3 linked regions of the Homo sapiens genome follow. The protein of the gene in region 2 purifies or fractionates together with the protein of the main gene of each other region. This does not show direct contact. Each region holds a gene or a part of one and is shown on either strand. Other genes may lie near its edges.

Region 1 (7,112 bases), on a different chromosome or scaffold from region 2:
TTGCAGTGAGCTGAGATCATGCCACTGCACTCCAGCCTGGGCAACAAGAGCAAAACTCTCTCAAAAAAAAAAAAAAGGAAAGAAAAAAAAAGAGGCTTGTAACTCCAACATTAACTATATAAATATTAGCATAATACATATATAAGATTTTAATATATATGTTTAACATATATAGGTATATATGTGTTTAATGCATATATACATATATGTATGTGTGTATATATTTGTTATATAGTGAAATATATATTTGTTATATATTGAAATATATATATTTGTTATATACATACATACATACATGTTATATACACACATACATACACACACACACACAATAGGAAACTCCTAATCTGGTACAGAGATAAATATATTCTGCCAAAAAGAATGCTATGACAAACTGGCATTTATTAAAATGGGCTCTTTACCAGTAATTATTCTTGAATCAAAGAATGACACTTTGTTATCTGCTCTACCAAATAATGTCCACCTGAGAGCCAACTTTAAGCTTGGCCTGGTGTCCTACGTGTCTGCAAAAAACCCTCACATTTTCTAATTACTTCACAGCTTATAAATGAAACAGACTCTTCAGAAACCTATGCAGCTATATGTGCACCAGAACTTCATCACCCTGGGGGAGGAACCGCAAAAACTCAGCCCTATAATAGAAGGCACTGTCCTATGAATAAGCTAAAAATTAATTCTGTATCTGCATTTTAAAAAGGACACACTACCTCAAGTAAGATTTGTTATTTTCTCATTTTACAGCAAGAAGTTTTTTTTTTTTCTTTATGATAGTCCATCAAAAATGAATAGAGATCAAGTGGTCATTCTAACATTTGGACCAAAGCCAGGTCAGATCTGAAGGCAATGCAGAAAGGAGGCAGGAATGTGGGCCACACACCTGAAACACTAGGTCATTATCCTCCTTATAACATACCAGAAGGTAGTTCCCTGCCCAAAAGATAAACTCCAGACTCAGCTTAAGAAGCACAGCCCTTAAAATTTTAACCTCAGCCAACCTTTCCTCCTTTATTTAGTAAGAAAAATTATAGCTATTAACCTATTCTTATTGTTCCATAATATCAGTCTCTTATTGTATAAGCTACAATCAGTTCGGAATTGCTGCTGAGTTCCAAAGAGCCTGTAAGTGTCCAAGGCACTCCACAAACCAAGCAGTTGTCAAAAGGGATTTCAGTAAACACTACTCTCTAGATACCTTTCCAAAGGATTAACACTATGAGTCAGAAAATAGTTACCATTAACTACAGTGGTGGGATCGAATTTAACAACGTAATAATCCCTAAAGGAAAACACACTGCCTCCTTCTCATCTGTCGCTAGTCCATATGAAAAGTAGCAACGTCTGGTGGACAAGGGCAGCCTCAGAATGGGCTCTGGGGGACGGCACAGATTCCCACACACTGGACTTCCTCTGACTGGCTGATGGCAGGGATCCTGGCTTTAGGCGTGAGTATCTTTCTTTCTTTGCATCTTCCTACAATTTACAGTTTTTGTATAAATACAATGACTTATTTATTTATTTATTTTTTTTTTTTTTGAGATGGAGTCTCTTGCTTTGTTGCCCAGGCTGCAGTGCAGTGGCACGGTCTCGGCTCACTGCAACCTCTGCCTCCCAGGTTCAAGTGCTTCTCCTGTCTCAGCCTCCTGAGTAGCTGTGATTACAGGCAGCCGCCATCATGCCTGGCTAATTTTTTGTATTTTTAGTAAAGATGGGGTTTCACTGTGTTGGCCAGGCTGGTCTCGAACTCCTGACCTCAGGTGATCTGCCCACCTCGGCCTTCCAAAGTGCTGGGATTACAGGTGTGAGCCACCATGCCTGGCCTACAATGATGTTTTTCAAGTTTCTATTTTGCCATTTTAATATAGAACTTTTATAGAAAAAAAAATGTTTCTCTGAGAAGCAGTTTCTCAATTAACCTGGATAAACATATCTACTAAGACCATGAAGCCATAGACAGATAGCAATGTCCATCACAGGGGAAAACTGAACACAGTGGCGTGCTGTATAATGACATTTCCATTAACAACAGACAGCATCTACAACAGTGGTCCCATAAGGTTATAATGGAGTTGAACAATTCCTATCACCTAGTGACAATCTAACTGTTGGAACATTGTAGCAAAATGCATCACTCATGTGTGGTGTTGCTGGCGTACACTAACCTACTGCAGTGCCAGTCGTTGAAAAGTCTAGCACATTCAATTACATACAGTATGTAGTACTTGATATAATAATAAATGACTATGTTACTGGTTTATGTATTTACTCCACTACACTTTTTATCATTATTTTAGAGCGTACACCTACTTATGCAGGAAAAAATAAGTTAATTGTAAAACAGTCCTTCAGGAGGACTCCAGAAGAAGAAATTGTTATCACAGACAACAGCTCCACACATGTTACTGCCCCCGAAGACCTTCCAGTGGGACAAGATGTGGAGGTGGATGACAGGGATAAGGATGATCCTGACCCTGTGCAGGCCAAGGCTAATGTGTGTGTGTTTGTGTCTTCATTTTTAACCAAAAAGTTTAAAGAAAAAAAAAGAAAGAAAAAACTTATAGAATAAGCATATAAAGAAAATATTTTTGTACAGCTATACAACATGTTTTCAGCTACATGTTATTACAAAGAGTGAAAAACTTTTAAAGAAGTTTATAAAGTCAAAAAGTTACAGTAAGCTCATTTATTACTGAAGAGAAGTATTTTTAGAATAAATTTAGTGTAGCCTAAGTGTACAATATTTACAAAGTCTATGGTACTGTACAGTAATGTTTTAGGCCTTCACTTTCACTTGCCACTTACTCACTGACTCACCCAGAGAAACTTCCAGTCCTGCGAGCTCCATTCACAGTAAGTGCCCCATACAGGTGGACCCTTTTTTTAGTATTTTATACAGTATTTCTACTATCCCTTTTCTGTGTTTAGATGTGTTCAGATACACACATACTTTGGTGTTACAAGATTCTCTTGTGCTTAGAGATTCAGGACAGTAGCATGCTGTATAGGTTTGCACCCTAGGAACAATAGGCCATACCCATATAGCTTAGGGTATGAAGCTATACAGGTGTATAATACACTGTACCATCCAGGTTTGTGTAATTCACTCTATGATGTTCATATGATGACAAAATTGCCCCATGGGAGATTTCTCAGACCATAACCTAGTCATTAACTGATGCATGACTGTATATCATATATTAGCTCTAAAAACCAAACCTATAAGTGAACTGACAAAAGTTGCCATAGATCCTAACAGCCTTTGAGACGGATGGGGGGCAGACAGAGCTTGGCACACTTCAGCCGTTCACAGCTCCCAATCAACCAGTCAGGATGCTGGTGCCATATAATTAGGAGAGAAAGCTAAATCACCGAGGACTCAGCCAAAAGCAAACCATGGTGGTGAGGAGGAAGGTGAAGGAAAAGGGTGGTATGCAACACAGTGGGACACCTTGCCTTATTCCCCATGTTTTTTGAGGCTGGTCCTGAGAAGTTTAAGAGAGAAAGACTCAGAAGCATGCATTGGAGGCCAGTTTTCTTGTGGTCCCAGTGATGGTGGCTCTTGTGACGCCTGGATGAGGAGGGAGAGCCTGGAAAAGTCAGGTGGTGACTTCAGTAGAGGGGGCGGGGGGATGTGCTGACACCCACCTCTGGCTTTGTCAGCTTCCTGAAACAGAAACAGCGTGGGCAGCTGCCAAGGGACCTGCTGCTCAGCCTCTATCTCTGCGACCCCTTGGGACTCAGTGCAAACTCAGACCTTCCTATCTCCCTTTGGCACAGGCACCAACCTCATGCCCATTCTTCCTCTCCTGACCATCATATCGTGGGTATTGAGCAGGACAGGCAGGTATGACTGGACACTTTTTTTTGCAGGCAGCAGGGAGTGAAGGCTTGAAAACCTCTATTTCCCATGCTGCATTCCTGACTGAATGAAGAGCCAAATCACAGCCTCAAAATTCTATATTGGGTGAGAAAAGGCAAACCTTGCCAGCAATATTCTCCCACTGCAAGCTACCTTCAGATGCAGTGTTTGTGCTAAATGAGTGAAATGAGATGTCAACAAAAGTCCCTACTAGAAAACAAACTGCCAAACACCTCCAATTCCCATGGGGGGTTTGATAGGCTCTCTGACAATCACTGAAGTCCCATCTGAAAAATGCATTTTGGTAGGTTTACGGGTTGACTTAAAGTCTTGAGATACTGATGTGGTTTTCTTAAATGTGTTGTTTCTATAGATTGTGAAGGTGATTGTCAGAGAGCATCTCGAATCCCCCATGGGAATTGGAGGAGTTTAGATAAATCCAAACTGAGGGATGGTCTACAAAATCTCTCACACCCTTTCAAGTGTGTTAAGGTCACGAAAAAAGAGGAAAGGCTGAGGAACTGTCACAGATTAGAAGCCAAGAATAAGTGACAATTAAATGCAAAGTGGGGAAACTGGATCAGAAAAAGGATCCTGGAACAGAAAAAAGACATTAAGCAGAAAAACGGGTGAAATTCAAATACTGTGTGCACTTTATAGTGGTATACTAGCACTAATTGATTCATTTTGATCATTATACTACAGCCATACAAGACGTTAACAAAAGAGGAAGCTGGGTAAAGTGTATTCATGAATTCTGCACTATTTTGCAACTCTTAGGTAAGTCCAAAATTACTTCAAATTTTAAAATGAAAATGTAATCGTGGTATATTGGGTAATTATCTCACCTTAGAGTGATCAAGAAATAGAAAAGAAACCTGGGAATCTCCTTTTCTAGCAGGAAAGGAAACAGTCATAAGACTGTGTCAGTGACTAAAAAGGACAAGCATGAACCAATACCCATCAGTCCAGCCCAGGACTGCGCTAGCACACTCTGGGCTACTGGAGCCTTTTTTATTGAGCCACTTTTAGAGGTGATTTTTCTCCAGCCAAGTGTCCTCGCTTAAAATTACAAGCATGAATAATACCCATAAGTTAAAAGTTTTTTTTTCCTTCTGAAAATGCATTTCAGAGGAGAGTTTGGGAGTTTTACTCATTTGGAGTCTTTCCCCTGACAGAGGGGCTGAGATTGGGTTGGGGTGAATGTGAGCTGACTCCTGCTGTGTTCAGAATTGGATATACCATGAGCTTTGGGAGAAGCAGTTAAGTGGGGGACTCTGAGGGTGGACACTCAGGCTGGGAAGGAGCACAGCCCCTCAGTAATAAGGATCAAGGCCCCAGAGCGAAACTGGGCCACCCCGGCAGTGAACTGTGGTAAATGTGGGCACGCTGCATAGCAGACATTCCCGACATTAATCTGGGAATCCTGAGCTCTGCTTGTTGCTTGGTCACTTCCTGATGATCTTAGGCAACTCACTAAGAGGCTTTGTCTGGGCCTGTGTTCTCTATAAAACAGAAATTTGGACTGGGCTGTGTGCTTCTCCTATACCATTCTCCAGCTACTTCTGGATGAAGAGGAAGGGAATGGAGGTCTTGAAAGGTGGAAGAGTCATGCTGGTAAGTAGAGAGCTGGGATTCCAACCCAGGTAGTCAGCTCCAAAGCACACATCCTTAATCAGATGCCACACTGGCTCCCAAGGCCAATGCTGCCCCAAGCCTGGATGATGGATGGCACCCATAGGCTGCAGCCCTGGCTGACACCCTGACTGCCCCCTCAGGAGAGCCCCAAAACTGGGTTTGGTGGGATACTGCACACTCGATATAGCATTATCCTTTCGTTCTTACCTTGACGCTGAGAGGTGGACATTATTATGGAGATACAGAGATCTTAGGTGGCTTGCTCAAGGTTACCTGGCTACAAGGTGATGAAACAGGGCTTTGACCCTAGTTTTTGTTCGTGACTCCAAGGCCATATTCTTATTGATTGAGGGGAACAAGTATGATTTCAGATCCTCTCCTAGAATTCAGTTCTGAACAAAGCAACAACTCTCAGCAGGAGGCCACTATGGTACTTAGAGTGGCATGCTGCTGCAGTTCCTGAGGAGTCTTTGCTATTGCTTCCCCACCGTGAGTCTAGAAGAGGAATCCTGTGGCTCTATCTGCTTGCTGAAATTCAGACACAGAATAGTATGTTGACACAGTTCTCTACTAACATAGTAATCTACCAAAACAGGATACACATTTATGTGACAGCAACTGCTTTTCCTGAGCTGCACCCCATGCTGGTCCCGTGTTCTTCTCTAAGTCCCACAGCCATCTGTTGAATGACTCAATCTTGAAATTTGTCAGGAATCAACAATAAATTTACTGGCTTGTACAAAAGTCAACTTTTCCCCCCTTTGAAAATGAAGATACTGCTTGACAACCATTTTATGTTATCTTTTGCACTCATGCAACAGAGACAGCAAGATTAGTTATAGTGCAATGAACCTGCTCTGATAATCTGCAAGAGTATCTAAAAAAAGAGGATTAAAAAAAGACAGTTAAGGTCTAATATCTAACTTGTCATCTTAATATTATCATGATGTATATTTAATATATGTAACTATTCATAGTTGGTATCCTTTTTACTGGGCAATACTAATCAAAATTATTTAAATACATATAAACATATATTTATATACACACACATATATACACATACTATATATGGTGTGTGTATACATACATATGCATAAGGGTGTATGTGTGTGTGTATGTACATATATATAATATACATCCTATAAGAGTACCATCAGCAGTTAGAATTAAAAGGGTTTAGGAAGAGAAGTGGGAGGTAGAAGAAGAGCAGAATAGAAATATGGCATTTACTTCATAACATCTTCCTCAATACTGAACCTTCAAACAGCCACAAAAAATTATCGAGTACTGGCCAGGAGCAGTGGCTCATGCCTATAATCCCAGCACTTCGGGAGGCCGAGGCAGATGGATTGCTTGAGCTTAGGAGTTCAAAACCAACCTGGGCAACATGGTGAAACTCTGTCTCTATAGAAGAATACAAAAATTAGCCGGGCATGGTGGCATGTGCCTATAGCCCCAACTACTTGGGAGGCTAAAGTGGAAGGATCACTTGAGCCTGGAAGATGGAGGTTGCAGTGAGCCGAGAACACGACACTGTACTGTAGCCTGGGTGACAGGGTGAGACCCTGTCTCAAAAAAAGAAAAAAAAAATTAT
Region 2 (7,000 bases):
TAAAAAAATCACTGTCATTCCAAAATCTAGCTATATTCTCTATGAACATTTTGCTGTACTTGCTTTCACTCTTTTTTCTCTTCCTTTTTTCTTTTCTGGTTTTTTGTTTGTTTGTTTGTTTGTTTGTTTTGTTTGAGATAGGGTCTCGTTCTGTTGCCCAGGCTGGAGTGCAGTGGCACGATCACGGTTTACTGCAGCCTCAATTTCCTGAGAACAAGCAATCCTCTCGCCTTAGCCTCCCAAGTAGCTGGGACTACAGGAGCACACTACCGTGCCTGGCTAATTTTTTCTATTTTTTTGTAGAGATGAAGTCTCACTATGTTACCTAGCTTGGTCTTGAACTCTGGGTTCAAGCAATCTTTCCACCTTGGCCTCCCAAAGTGTTGGATTATACGTGTGAGTCACCTCACCTGGCTACTCTCATTCTTTTGAAATAGTGTTTAGTGTGATTGCAATTCGAGTATATGTAGAGTGTTTTTTTTTCTTTTTCTTTTTCTTTCTTTTTATGTTTTTGAGATGAGATTTCACTCTGTTGCCCTGGCCTGGCTGCAGTGGAGTGGTATGGTCATAGCTCACTGCAGCCTCACATAGAGGATTTTTTTTTCTTTTTCTTGAAATATCATGGGCATTTTCCATGATGTTACTTTTGTTGAAATATTATTTGTAATGGTTGCTTAGGAGTCTTCAACATGAATAGCCTACAATACATGTCATAATTCCACCATTTTGTCAATGTAGCTGCTTTCCTTGCCTTGCCTTTTACAAATCGTGTTGCACTGAACAACACTGTACATAATATTTTGACTTGTCTTTGATTATTTCCTAGAGATGAAGTCTTAGAAGTGAAATGACTAGGTCCAGGGGCAAAAAAAAACTTTTTTATTCTATTTTTGAGGCAGAGTCTCATTCTGTCGCCCAGTCTGGAGTGCAGTGGCACAATCTCGGCTCACTGCAACCTCCACCTCCCAGGTTCAAGCAATTCTCCTGCCTCAGCCTCTAGAATAGCTGGGACTACAGGAGCGTGCCACCACACCCGGCTAATTTTTGTTTTTAGTAGAGACGAAGTTTCACTGTTTGGCCAGGCTGATCTGGAACTGGTGACCTCAGGTGATCCACCCACCTTGACTTCCCAAAGTGCTGGGATTACAGGCGTGACCCACCACGCCTAGCTAGTAAAAACAAACAAACAAACAAACAAACAAACAAACAAAATATATATATATATAATGCCCTTCCTATGTTTTTGAACTGCCTGACCAAGAGGTGTCTTCAATGTATGCACTTGTGCTCATTAAGAGTATCTTTTAATTCTAAAAAAGGAGAAAAAGAACTTAAGCTATTTTAAAAGATAAAAAATGCATCTCATTATTCTTTCTCAGCATTGCTTTGGTTACTAGTGAGGCTGCGTCTGCTTTTCCTGATTGGCCAGCTGTTGCTCTTTCTGTGAATAATGTTTCAAGTCCTTTTTTTTCCCCGTTAGGATGTATTTATTTAAATAAATACATGTATTTAAATAAACTCTTTACCAGAATTATTATTTCTTTAGTTACAATATTTATGACAAATATTTCCCCATATTGTTCTTTAACTTTAAATTTTGTTTCTTATCACTTTTGGTACACACAAGTTTGCATTTTTACATGGTAAAATGTTGGTTTTGCTTGCTGAGAATTCCTTCATGGCTTTTATGTGTTAAAAGAGCATCTTCATACTTGTCTGAATGTTCCACCTAGATTTTTTAATGTACTTTATTTTATTTATTTATTTATTTATTTTTATTTTATTTTATTTTTTTTGAGATAGAGTCTCGCTCTGTCACCCAGGCTGGAGTAGAGTAGCGCGATCTCGGCTCATTGCAAGCTCCACTTCCCAGGTTCATGCCATTCTCCTGCCTCAGCCTCCCAAGTAGCTGGGACTACAGGTACACGTCACCATGCCCCACTAATTTTTTTTTTTTGTATTTTTTGGTAGAGACGGGGTTTCACCATGTTAGCCAGGATGGTCTCGATCTCCTGACCTCATGATCCGCCCGCCTCGGCCTCCCAAAGTGCTGGGATTACAGGCAAAATGTGCTTTATTCATTTATTTATTTAGAGATGGAGTTTTGCTCTTGTTGCCCAGGCTGGGGTGCAATGGTGTGATCTCGGCTCACTGCAACCTCTGTCTCCTGGGTTCTCCTGCCTCAGCCTCCCGAGTAGCTGGGCTTACAGGCATGCACCACCACGCCAGGCTAATTTTGTAGTTTTAGTACAGACGGGGTTTCTCCATGTTGGTCAGGCTGGTCTCGAACTCCCTAACTCTGGTTATCCACCTGCCTGGGCCTCCCAAAGTGCTGGGATTACAGGCGTGAGCCACCGTGCCCAGCCAATGTGCTTAATTTTTTTAAGTTAACTCTTTAACTCATCTGGAATTATTTTGATGAATGGTGTGAGGCATAAATGGAACCAAGCTTTTCCCAAACAACCAATTTTCCATTATAGTTATTAGTTAATATTTCCTTTCTCCAATTAATTTGTAATTCTTCTTTTTACCACATGAGAAGGCTTTACATCTATGAGAGTCCATTGTCTGGGCCATTTACTTTATTTCACTGGTCTGCCACTTCTTGAACCAACATACCACAATATTTATATTGACACTTTATCTTTTCATATCTGATATGAAAATCATTTTTTTCTAAAACATCTTAGTTATTTTTATTAGTTTATTCATACGGATGAAAAAGTTTAGGATTTTGACACATTTTACCAGATCTCATGGAATTTTCTTTGGTACTGCACTTGTTCAGTTCCCCAATCCTCAATCATGGTAGAGCTGTAGTTTTCCTTATATGGGTCCTGCTCAAATTGTTAGAAATTCTTATTTCTAAGAAATGTATTATGACTATCATAAGGCGATTTTCCCATCACCACCCCTGCTCAGGTTACTACCAATTATTGTTGGAATAACAGAAAGTGTTTTTTTCCCTATTCATCATACACATAGCTACTTGCTGCGATTATGGATTCTGAGAACGTCTTAGGTGACTATTTGGGTTTTCCACGTGGGCCATCATATCTGCAAATAGTAGTATTTCTGCCTTTTTTTTTTTTTTTTTTTTTTTTTGGTATTTCCACTTCTTGCTTCATGTTTTACTGCATTGGCCAGGGCTGGTAGAAAGATGTTCAGTGGTCACGTGAGGTTTTACTACTGACTTTATTAGGAATGCTTCTGGTGTTTCTCATCTGAGTTCCGTTGTCGCTTAGACTTTGAAATCCCTTTTTAAAAATCGTGTTCAGAAAGCACATCTCATGGAAATGACAAATATGAGAACTAAAACCGACAAATTTCTGCCCAAAATCCCACATGCAGAGCCTCCTGGCCTGGAGCCTCCTGAGGCGTCGGTTCTTTGATGACTTCCCATTTCTTTTCCCTTTTTTTTTTTTTTTTTGACGGAGTCTGGCTCTGTCGCCAGTCTGGAGTGCAGTGGTGCGATCTCGGCTCACTGCAACCTCCGCCTCCCAGCTTCCAGTGATTCTCCTGCCTCAGCCTCCCGAGTAGCTGGGATTACAGGCGCCTGCCACCATGCCCGGCTAATTTTTGTATTTTCAGTAAAGACGAGGTTTCACCATGTTGGCCAGGCTGGTCTCGAACTCCCGAACTCAGGTGATCCGCGCGCCTCGGCCTCCCAAAGTGCTGGGATGACAGGCGTGAGCCACCGCGCCAGCTGATGACTTCCCATTTCTTCCTTGGTTCTTTCGGAGCCACTTTGGGAAATTCGGTTCTATCTGCAGTGGTAAAATACAGGTCGGCTCTCCACGCGCGCGGCCAATGGACGCTCCCAGCGCGGACAGACAGGCCCTTTGCTGGAGCTGGGCAGGGCGAAAGGACCCCAGGGCGGGGCTTCAGTCGAGGCCGGCCCCGCCCACCGCTGCAGCCGCGCATGCGCCATGTACAGGCTGCTTTGGGCCCTCCCGCGTGCCGTTCTTACCCGGCCTGCCCCGCGCCGCCGCTTCCGGAAGTGGGTCTCGTCTCCTCCCAAGCGGAGCATTTGTGCCTGAAGCTGCCGGGTCTGCTACGGCACCGCGGGGCTGCAGAAACCCGGGGGCCAAGGGCGGGCTGCTTGCCGCTATGGCTGGCAGTCAGGACATATTCGATGCCATCGTGATGGCGGATGAGAGGTGGGTGGTGAGGCCGGGCCCGCACCCCGCCCTGTCTGGTCGTCTCCCAGCGGCTTCGCCGCCGGCTGCGGCCCAGGGCGGCTGCTGGAGCCTGGCGTCCCTTGGGCGTGCGCATTGGGGAGCGCCTGGTGGCCGTGGACGCAGGGACAAGTGTGGGCCTGATGCTCTGGTCCTCTTCTCCTGGCCCGCTCCGGCGGGGCACGTGCCCAGCTGCTCTTCCAGACCCGCCTTCCCTGTCAGGGCTGCCCCAAACATCTGCTCAGCCTGGTGGTTCCCCTCCTCCGAGGCCGCCTCGTCCTCTGGGAGGACAGACCTTTGCCATCTGGGAGCTGCCTTTTTTTCTGGTTCCTTAATCATAGGACATACGGCAGTATTCATGGATGTGCTGATAGATGTACCCGACCACACCCCTTTTCCCTCCAGAGCCCCTGGGGAGCCCCTCGTGCTGCGACAGTGGGGGAGCTGTGAGTTGCCTCCTGGCTGACTTCCAGTGCCCGGCCCAGAGGACGCGTCCATAGATGTTAGTTAAGAAAGCGGCCGAACATTTAGCAGTCAGGCGCTGACGTTTATTTAGCTCGCGCTGTGAGTCAGACACTGAGCTAAACGTTCCACCCTGGTTATCTACTTCAGCCCTACTTAGTAAGTGGATCCTATTATTCTTCGGAATTTACAGACTAGGAGGCACAGTCACTTTCCAGGGTCACACAACTATTAAGTGGGGAGCTATGCACCCTGCTTCATGGGGCGCTGCAGCCCACTCCTTGCATGTTTGGTGACTGCAGGTTAAGATAGTGGCAGTTCCACTGTTGGGCCTCAGGGTCAGTGCTACTCCGGGTACCAGTCGGAGAACATTTTGTGGTGATCTGATGCCATTTCTCTCTGTTGCCCTACCCATGTGATGTCAAACCCTGTGTATGTTGCAGTTTTTTGGAAGCGGTTGACTTGGGCTAGTGCTACTTGAACACTCACAGAACTTTGGCCCCCTAACTCTGGCTGCAAACCAGACTTATCTAGGAGACTTTGAAAAGTAGATTCCGGGCCAGATGCGGTGGCTGACGCCTGTAATCCCAGCACTTTGGGAGGCCGAGGCGGGCGGATCACGAGGTCAGGAGATCCAGACCATCCTAGCTAACATGGTGAAACCCCGTCTCTACTAAAAATACAAAAAATTAGCCGGATGTGGTGGTGGGCGCCTGTAGTCTCAGCTACTTGGGAGGCTGAGGCAGGAGAGCGTGAACCCGGGAAGCAGAGCTTGCAGTGAGCCGAGATCGCACCACTGCACTCCAGCCTGGGCGACAAAGCGAGACTCCATCTCAAGAAAAGAAAAGTGGATTGCAGGCCAGGTGCGGTGGCCCTCACTTGTAATCCCAACACTTGGAGCGGCCAAAGCTGGAGGATCGCTTGAGCCCAGGAGTTTGAGGCTATAGTGAGCTGTGATCATACCACTGCACTCCAGGCAGGGCAACAGAGACCCTGTCTCAAAAAAAAAAAAAAAAAAAAGGAAGAAAGAAAAGTAGATTCCAGGGCCTTGCTCCAGACGTACTGAATCTCTGGGGGTGAGGCTTTTGAGTTAATATCTTTGAATTTTCCTTGTGTGTTTCTAGTACCCTATCAGGTTTGGGAATCCCTAATTTAGCCCTTTGTTGTAGATGAAGAAACTGGGCTACAAGAGGTACAGTGACTTCCAGAGGCAAATAGGAAGTGGTAGATCTGGGACTGGAATCTGTGTCTTCTGACTTGAATTTTAGGCTTTTCCTCCTTTACTCTGGTTTGTCTTACTGGGTCCGGGTAATACAAGAGAGAGAAGTTTTTCTGGAGAAAGTATTCTTTCTCCTGTTGATTTGATGAAGCATGCTTCTTCTTCACAGGTTTCATGGGGAAGGGTATCGGGAAGGCTATGAAGAAGGCAGTAGTTTGGGTGTGATGGAGGGAAGGCAGCATGGCACGCTGCATGGAGCCAAAATCGGGTCTGAGGTAAGTGGGAACCCCCATCTGGAGATGAAGCCTCTTCATTTACAATTTATAATTTATTTCGATATTCAGTGTGATGGAGTAAGAATTGTCAGGCCTTTTAAAATCACAGTGCCGGATGGGCGCGGTGACTCACACCTGTAATCCCAGCACTTTGGGAGTCTGAGGTGGGTGGATCGCCTTGAGGTCAGGAGTTGGAGACCAGCCTGACCAACATGGTGAAACCCTGTCTCTACTAAAAATACTGAATTAGCTGGGCATGGTGGTGCATGCCTGTAATCCCAGCCACTTGGGAGGCTGAGGTATGAGACTCGCTTGAACCTGGGAGGCAGAGGTTGTGGTAAGCCGGGACCGTGCCATTGCACTGCAGCCTGGGCGACAGGATGAAACTCCATCTCCAAAAAATAAACAAAAAAAATCACAGTGCCTTTGCATGGGAGTTAATGGACTAGATGGACTGTTGCTGGAGAAATATTCTTAGTACAGAACCAAGAGTGCATTTTGCTGTAGGTAGATACAATTAAATTATGCATGCTGGATAAAAGAAAACAAGTCCCTGGTCTCCTTAGTTTACTTGGGAGTGTCATGGTGCTGGCTCATGTACTAAGCCAAAGAATGGGTGCCCTCTGTCATGTGAACATATTCCATTTATGTTTACGTTGAAATTTCATTAACTTTATGATTTTTTTTTTTCTCTTCTTGCCCTTTGTCCTAGATTGGCCCTTACAGATAAGTGGCCCTTAGTGGCAAAGTCTGAGTTGAGGCAGTTATGACTATATTGGATGTTCGATGCTGTGAAACAGATCACCACAAAATTCATGGGCTTAACACAGCAAATATGGATGATCTCACATGTTTCTGAGGGTTGG
Region 3 (7,112 bases), on a different chromosome or scaffold from region 2:
TGATTTTATAAGTATTTTTCTTGTGTTAGCAATTGTAGGCCTTTCTGTTGCTATGTAAAATTTTAAGATACATATTTTAAAGATTTCATTTACATGAAAATACGTTTAATACATATTCTGTCATTAGCAGTAAGTAGAACTGTGCTCTTATATCACAAGTACTTTCTTTAAGACAATCCAGGATCAGTAAATAACAATAGCTTTTGCTTATTTTATTCAATATATTTGAAATGATCATTCACAAATTTAACCTATCCTTAAAAATAGGCATTACTTATTTTAGTATAATCCCATTTGTATACAAAACAAACCCTTTACATATTCACACTTAGGTAAGTGCACAGAAAAAAGCATGAAAGAATATACATTATTAAATTCAAACGCTGGTAACCTTTGGGAGGGTAATAAAGGGAGATCATTTTTTTATTCCATTCTGTATATTTGAATTTTTTACAACATGTATTTATGGGTTACTGAAATTATTTTTAAAAGGCATAATAGGGTCCAGTTAAACCATACTTTCTAGCCATTATTTGCATATTAATCAAGACTTCTGTTATTTCAAGTAGCTCTTAAAGTTTGTCAAACAGTTTCTAATTTCCTCCTCAATTTTGCTTGCCCCAGTCATTTATTTAGTAAACACTCTTCCTCACTCATAATTCCAGTTTAGTCAGAAGTACAACTTAAAGTGGCTCCAGGCTCCAGGTAATCCTGTTCAAAATTCAGGAACTCAAGAAATTTAGATGGGTTTTTGGAACTACAAAATGGTTTAGATAATGTGCTCTATATCCAAACTCACAAATGAATATATGTGGTACCAGGGGATACTTTGTATTGCCATCTGGGGACTTTTGCATTAATGTTGCCTTTAGGGAAGTGGTTTATAATCCTTGGCTGCCCAACAGAAAAATCTGTGGAACTTAAAAAAAATACATAGATGCTTAGGCACCATCTTTAAAGATTTCGAGTCTGTAGTTCTAAGGGAAGCAAATATTCTTTAGAAATGCTTTTTCCTAAATCTCAATCAGTGATTATATAAATATATGTGTACAAAAATGACATTACCTAGAGAATGACTGAATACAGAACCTCATGGAATGCAAAAACAAAAAAAGTTCAGAGTAAAGTTAGGGGTTTTTTGCGGGGAATGGAACTGAATTGGTTTTTGCTAAACATGTTTAAAAGCACCAAAAAAGATTAAAAACAATTTAAAAATACCTATTTTTCCAACAGTGGTGTTTTGCAGTAGATAATCTTCCTCGGAAACCATATACTGGTAATATAGTGCAAAGACTGAAAACAAACAATAAACATAATCCTGATGTTTATTTATCAAATGTCAATCAGTGGAATCTTTGACTGGCTTTTAAAATAAGGGCAGTTTCATTACACTGGCATACTTGGCAAACCAGGTAAGTACAGAAACCCTTTTCAAGATTTAAAAAATGGAGCAACACTGGTCAGCATTTGGTACCGTGAATATAATACACCTACTGAAAATCTTCCCATACATCATGAAAACTTGGAAGTAATTTGTATAGCTTGAAATGTCTTCATTTTAGAATATTATGCACAAAAGAGCCTCTTCAGGAACAGAAAAGTGGCATTTTCTGTGTTTCAACTACAATTTAGAACCCAACTGGCTTTTTATGTTATATTAAGTATATTATACTTCAAGTTCCAGAGTATGTGGGGCATAAAATCCTGATTCAAGTTTTATATGACAAAAAATTCTAGTAAATACTCCTTTTAATAAATGGCTTATCAATATTCTCAGAGTCAGTCTAATCATCCAAGAAAAAGTAGTTTCCACTCTTCTTTTGTTCTACATCCTAAAAAAGAAAACAGAAGCCACAAAAATCAGCAACACGATTCTACTATAGGTAAAAGTAGACTTTCACTCATGGTATTACTTAGCTGTGCTTAAAACAGTGCCTGTACAACCTGTTCTGCACATACCATCTGTTTCTGGATATTCCTGGGTCCACTGCTCAAAGGAAAGATAACTACCTCTGCCCCATCCCTAATGCTAGAATGACTCACTTGCACCAACTCAAGTAAAGTCCCTTTATATAAGATGCCTCACATATATAAAATTTTGCTATGTGTTATTATTTCTAGGAAAACTATTAAATTCCATTTTCATCAATGCAACTTTTATCTCCAGATTCAAAATGCAGCATACTGTCAGTTTGAGATCTGCCTACTACACAAAATATATATATATAAAGTTTTTTCCAATACTGGCCAGTAACAATCTCACCTACCTACTTGTTGAGCTGTTCTCTTATTAGGATTAAGGTATGACAATCTTAAGATGAGTAGGCATACAGAAATGATAACTCATGGTGACTGAACCATAAGTCTGTCTAAGAAAATGACAATACAAAGTGTCCTTAATGCTTCCAAAGAAATTCTTCTTTTCTACCCAATATGCTTTTCAAAACTGAGAAAACTCTTCAATTTTATGTGAGAACTTAACCATTTCTCTATCCTGGCCAAGAAGTAATATCAATCAGAAAAAAGGCATCCAGACATACTGTTAGGTGCTTAAGAATACAATGACGTGCAAGATAACTTTGCCTCTGGCATTCCAAGAGCTCATGGTTTAGCAGCAAAGCTAGGACTACAAATATGAAAATAAATGCTACAGCAGAAGTATGTATAACATACTTCTAAAGCTTTTAAGCATTAAGGATGATGGATACAGAGTGATAAAATGTAAACACTTTGAGGCACTGCAGATATTAAAAACAGAAATGATGGCCAGCATGGTGGCTCACGCCTGTAATCCCAGCACTTTGGGAGGCCAAGGCAGGTGGAACACTAGGTCAGGAGTTCAAGACTAGCACGGGCAAGATGGTGAAACCCCATCTCTATCAAAAAAATACAGAAAATTAGTCGGGTGTGGTGGTGGGCACCTGTAATCCCAGCTACTCGGGAGGCTGAGGCAGAGAATTGCTTGAACTCGGGAGGCAGAGGTTGTAGTGAGCCGAGATCACGCCACTGCACTCCAGCCTAGGTGAGAGAGTGAGACTCTGCCTCAAAAAAACAAACAACTAAAACCAAAACCAAAAAAACAACCCAGAAATGCTTTTAGAGTTCATTTACTTTCTGTTTCTGAGTGACTAAGATTTTTGCCTTTTAAGAAACAAATACTGTATTTCACAGAGGAAATCAACTGTAGGGTGCACAACTGTGAACTACAAAGACAAAAAACATTGTCAATTAAGTAGACACAATGTTTTCCTCATCACAGGAGCTTGTTTAGACTTTCAAAATATACTTTTTTTGCGGGGGTTGCGGGGGCGGGGGCAGGGACAGAGACTCGCTCTGTTGCCCAGGCTGGAGTACAGTGGAACGATCTCAGCTCACTGCAACCTCCACCTCCTGGGTTGAAGTGATTCTCCTGCCTCAGCCTCCCGAGTAGCTGGGATTACAGGCGCATGCCACCACGCCTGGCTAATTTTTTGTATTTTTAGTAGAGATGGGTTTTCACCGTTAGACAGGATGGTCTCGATCTCCTTGGCTTCCCAAAGTTCTGGGATTACAGGCATAAACCACTGCGCTTGGCCTAAAATACACCTTTTAATCATGTATTGAAAAATATAACAGAAATTGGTTAAGGTATTCTTAAAAAATTCTTTGTTACAATGGTGAATTAGTGTAATCTTTCCCCAGACATTTTAAGTGGTAATCAATATAGGTAGTACAACTGTGATACAACTTAAAGAGAAAACAGGAAGAGCTCTTGAGTTCACACAGCAATGACAGCTACATTACAATTGCTGCCTACCGCACACTAAAGTATGCCATCAGGTCTTAAAATGTAAAAAACATAGGAATTTTAAAATAAAATATGGTTGTTTTTTAATTTATTTTTATTTTTTTAGACAGAGTCTCACTCTTTTGCCCAGGCTGGAGTACAGTGGGATGATCTCAGCTCACTACAACCTCCACCTTCCAGGTTCAAGTGATTCTCCTGCCTCAGACTCCTAAGTAGCTGGGATTACAGATACCTGCCACCAGACTCGGCTAATTTTTGCATTTTTAGTAGAGATGGGGTTGCACCATGTTGGCCAGGCTGGTCTCAAACTCGTGACCTCAAGTGATCTGCCTGCCTTGGCCTCCCAAAAGTGCTTGAATCACAGGTGTGAGCCACTGTGCCCAGCCATATGTTATTGATTTTTAAATAGCCTTTCAAGTGTTTATACTGAGATCAGTAATCCATGATTTAAGACAACTTTTCTACATACCTTAATTGAATTAAGTTTGTTTATTCGTGGCCTATAGTTGTTTGGATCTCTTCTGAATGTAATTTCAAGCTGAGACAAAAATTTATTCATGCCAGCCAAAAGGGTTTGAGGACTAAGAGAAAAAAAAAAATCAATTTTGATTAAATTTTACTTCAGAAATGTAACTACCTTTTGAGAGGAAGGGTATTAAGAATTACTATTACCTCAAATTCCCCAATCATAAATCATCTGGATAACAGTATAATAACAGCATATTACAAATCCTGTGTTCAGAAATAGCTTTGCTTGGACTATATAGTTTTCTTGGCTGTAATATTTTTGTGCAAAACAAAAAAAAAATTTAACCTGGATTTCTAATCTGGTGAAAGAAACATTTAAGATAGAAGTACTACTTTAGAAAAACAGAAGATAATTAATAAGTAGATTACAGAATCTCCAATTGCACATTTTTAGGGGGGATGAGAATCTTAAAAAGTTATATTTATATGAAAAATTTGTTACTGGAGGGAATATGTCCTCCTAATAGTGGTTTTCAGTGACAATTCCTTTCTAAATTTCTATGCTTAATCGTTTTTACCCAAGTGAGTTCTTAAATCATGCCAAATCACAACATACATGTGAAACATTTTAAAATTTTGTAAATAGAAAGGTGGGATATCACTAGATGAACAAATAAACATCACATATGCTAAGAAATTTCCCTAGCTCTTTAAGAAATATGTAATTCTCAATTTATAAAAAAAAAAAAGGAATTCAGGGAAGAAGCCCAGCAAAATACTTTTATTTCTTAGATGAATTATTAAAATGGCAACTCCATTCCTTGCTCTCCAATACCAGAAAACATGCTGAAACCACATGAAACTGCTGGTTTTATAGGTGAAAACTGAACACCAGTAATTTCATTTAGTTCAATCTAATAATATAGGCTTTAGCACTAAAGGTAAAATGAATTTCTCATAACTTGATCTGAATGTTAGGCTTCTCTATATTGCAAGTGCTCTTAATCAGGCTAACAAGGAAAAATGAGAAGAAAAAACGAAAAAAGTAAAACCATTTATTTTAACTCTGCTATAGATTAATACCAGATATTTGGGATCCACTGTGAGCTCAATCACTGTCAGCATAAGTTGGACAAATCATGTAACCTCTTTAATCTTGTTTTCTTTTTCTATCATGTATGAAAGCAATAGTTTTCAATCTTTTTTGGGAAATTCAAATAATAAAGCAAACAAAAGTTAAGCTGAGAAAAGGTGAGGGGCCCACAGCTTTTTATGCTGTGGCCTACAGCTTTTTATCTTCCTGGTGAGGGATTCCACACTGAAGCCTAAACACTACTCTTCCACATGGTCCCATCCAGTCCCCAATACCAATGATCTCAGGAGTCACAGAATCAAGTCTAGAATTTCTAGCTTTCATTTTTTAAAAATTAAAGTGAGTGACTTTACTATTTACTGGAAAATTTAAAATGAATTACTTTGAACATATTAAAAAGTAATTTTACCTGTTTGCAACTGTGTTCTTAGATGGAACACCATCAAAAACGATGACGCGATCCGCTAGATAGGTGGCCATGATGAAGTCATGTTCCACAACAAAGGCTGTCTTTTTTGCATGGAGTATGAAACTAAAACACAATGATTTTGAAATCTTATAGCTTTCTATCATAAAACATTCGACTGTTATATTAAGCACACTTGTAGGACAGTATACATAATCAAAATATGGCTAGGAGCAAGATATTTACCGTTTGACAACTCGAGCTGCCATCAGTCTTTGCTCAGAATCCAAATATGCAGATGGTTCATCAATTAAATAGACATCAGCAGGTTTGCCCAAGCAAAGGGCTAAAGCTACTCGCTGTAGTTCACCACCAGATAATGTCTGCACCTAATTGGAGGAGTTTAGCAAACCATGTAAAGGCATCCAAAATTCAAAATAATAAAAAAATAAAAAAAATTATGTTAAAGTACCTCTTGATCAATGATGTTTTCAATTTGCAGAGGCTTCATTACATCGGTCACAAATTGTGGGTGAGTATAAGCATCTCTTATCTTTTCATGTAGTAACTGGCGAACACTTCCCTGTTTTTAATATAAAAAAGTATTTAAATGATAAACTTTCACTATAGAACTCTTCTATTTATGAATCTTGACAAAGTTAAGCTTCAGAATAAAAGTATATCAATTTGCCACCAACAGATATCAATGTGTATCCACCATCTATGACATGTTTTGAGATTTTCTATTCAAAACCCATCATGTCCAACAAGTAAAAAGGAATTTTTTTTTTTCTTTTGAGACAGGGTCTTGCTCCATTGCCCAGGTGTGCAATGGCATGATCAGGGCTCACTGCAGCATCAACCTCCCAAGCTCAAGCGATCCTCCCACTTCAGCCTCTAGAGGAGCTGGAACTACAGGCATGCACCACCATGCTGAACCAATTTTTAAGTTTTTGTGGAGGCGGAATCTGTTGGTCAGGCTGGTCTTAAACTCTTGGGTTCAAGTGACCCTCCTGCCTCAGCCTCCCAAAGTGCTGGGATTACATGCGTGAGCTACCATGCCCAGCCTGCAACAATCTTTTTTTTTTTTCCACTCCACAGCCCCTGCAATAATTTTAAAATTAGAAAGTAATAAGCAAATAATGAATGTTTCAGAGGAAAAATCATTTAAGAGTAGAAATTCCAAAGGTCAAAGTGGGTATCAAGCAACCTTAGGCAATCAGTAAGAGAACACAAAATGCATGATAATGTGCTAGGGATGAATCCTAAGATGGCTTTTCCTTGCTGTTTCAGGATAAGGCTGAATTTTAGAATTTAAAGCTAAGCTTATAGAGAGCATCAATGACAAAACTTTTATG

The links.
Region 1: the proteins of LTO1 (region 2) and TGFBRAP1 purify together in Homo sapiens (co-immunoprecipitation; 2 studies listed by BioGRID and IntAct, with this or other methods). This does not show direct contact.
Region 3: the proteins of LTO1 (region 2) and ABCE1 purify together in Homo sapiens (affinity purification with mass spectrometry; 4 studies listed by BioGRID and IntAct, with this or other methods). This does not show direct contact.

Annotation. Positions count from the first base shown.
Region 1 is NC_000002.12:105,319,629-105,326,740, forward strand, and holds part of TGFBRAP1 (transforming growth factor-beta receptor-associated protein 1), read right to left. Parts: intron 1-7,112. UniProt on the Homo sapiens protein: Plays a role in the TGF-beta/activin signaling pathway. It associates with inactive heteromeric TGF-beta and activin receptor complexes, mainly through the type II receptor, and is released upon activation of signaling.
Region 2 is NC_000011.10:69,672,350-69,679,349, reverse strand, and holds the start of LTO1 (protein LTO1 homolog), read left to right. Parts: upstream 1-3,996; 5' UTR 3,997-4,110; coding exon 4,111-4,160; intron 4,161-6,028; coding exon 6,029-6,134; intron 6,135-7,000. UniProt on the Homo sapiens protein: The complex LTO1:YAE1 functions as a target specific adapter that probably recruits apo-ABCE1 to the cytosolic iron-sulfur protein assembly (CIA) complex machinery. May be required for biogenesis of the large ribosomal subunit and initiation of translation.
Region 3 is NC_000004.12:145,122,246-145,129,357, reverse strand, and holds part of ABCE1 (ATP-binding cassette sub-family E member 1), read right to left. Parts: intron 6,338-7,112; coding exon 6,227-6,337; intron 6,144-6,226; coding exon 6,001-6,143; intron 5,881-6,000; coding exon 5,758-5,880; intron 4,369-5,757; coding exon 4,257-4,368; intron 1,833-4,256; coding exon 1,785-1,832; 3' UTR 1-1,784. UniProt on the Homo sapiens protein: Nucleoside-triphosphatase (NTPase) involved in ribosome recycling by mediating ribosome disassembly. Able to hydrolyze ATP, GTP, UTP and CTP. Splits ribosomes into free 60S subunits and tRNA- and mRNA-bound 40S subunits.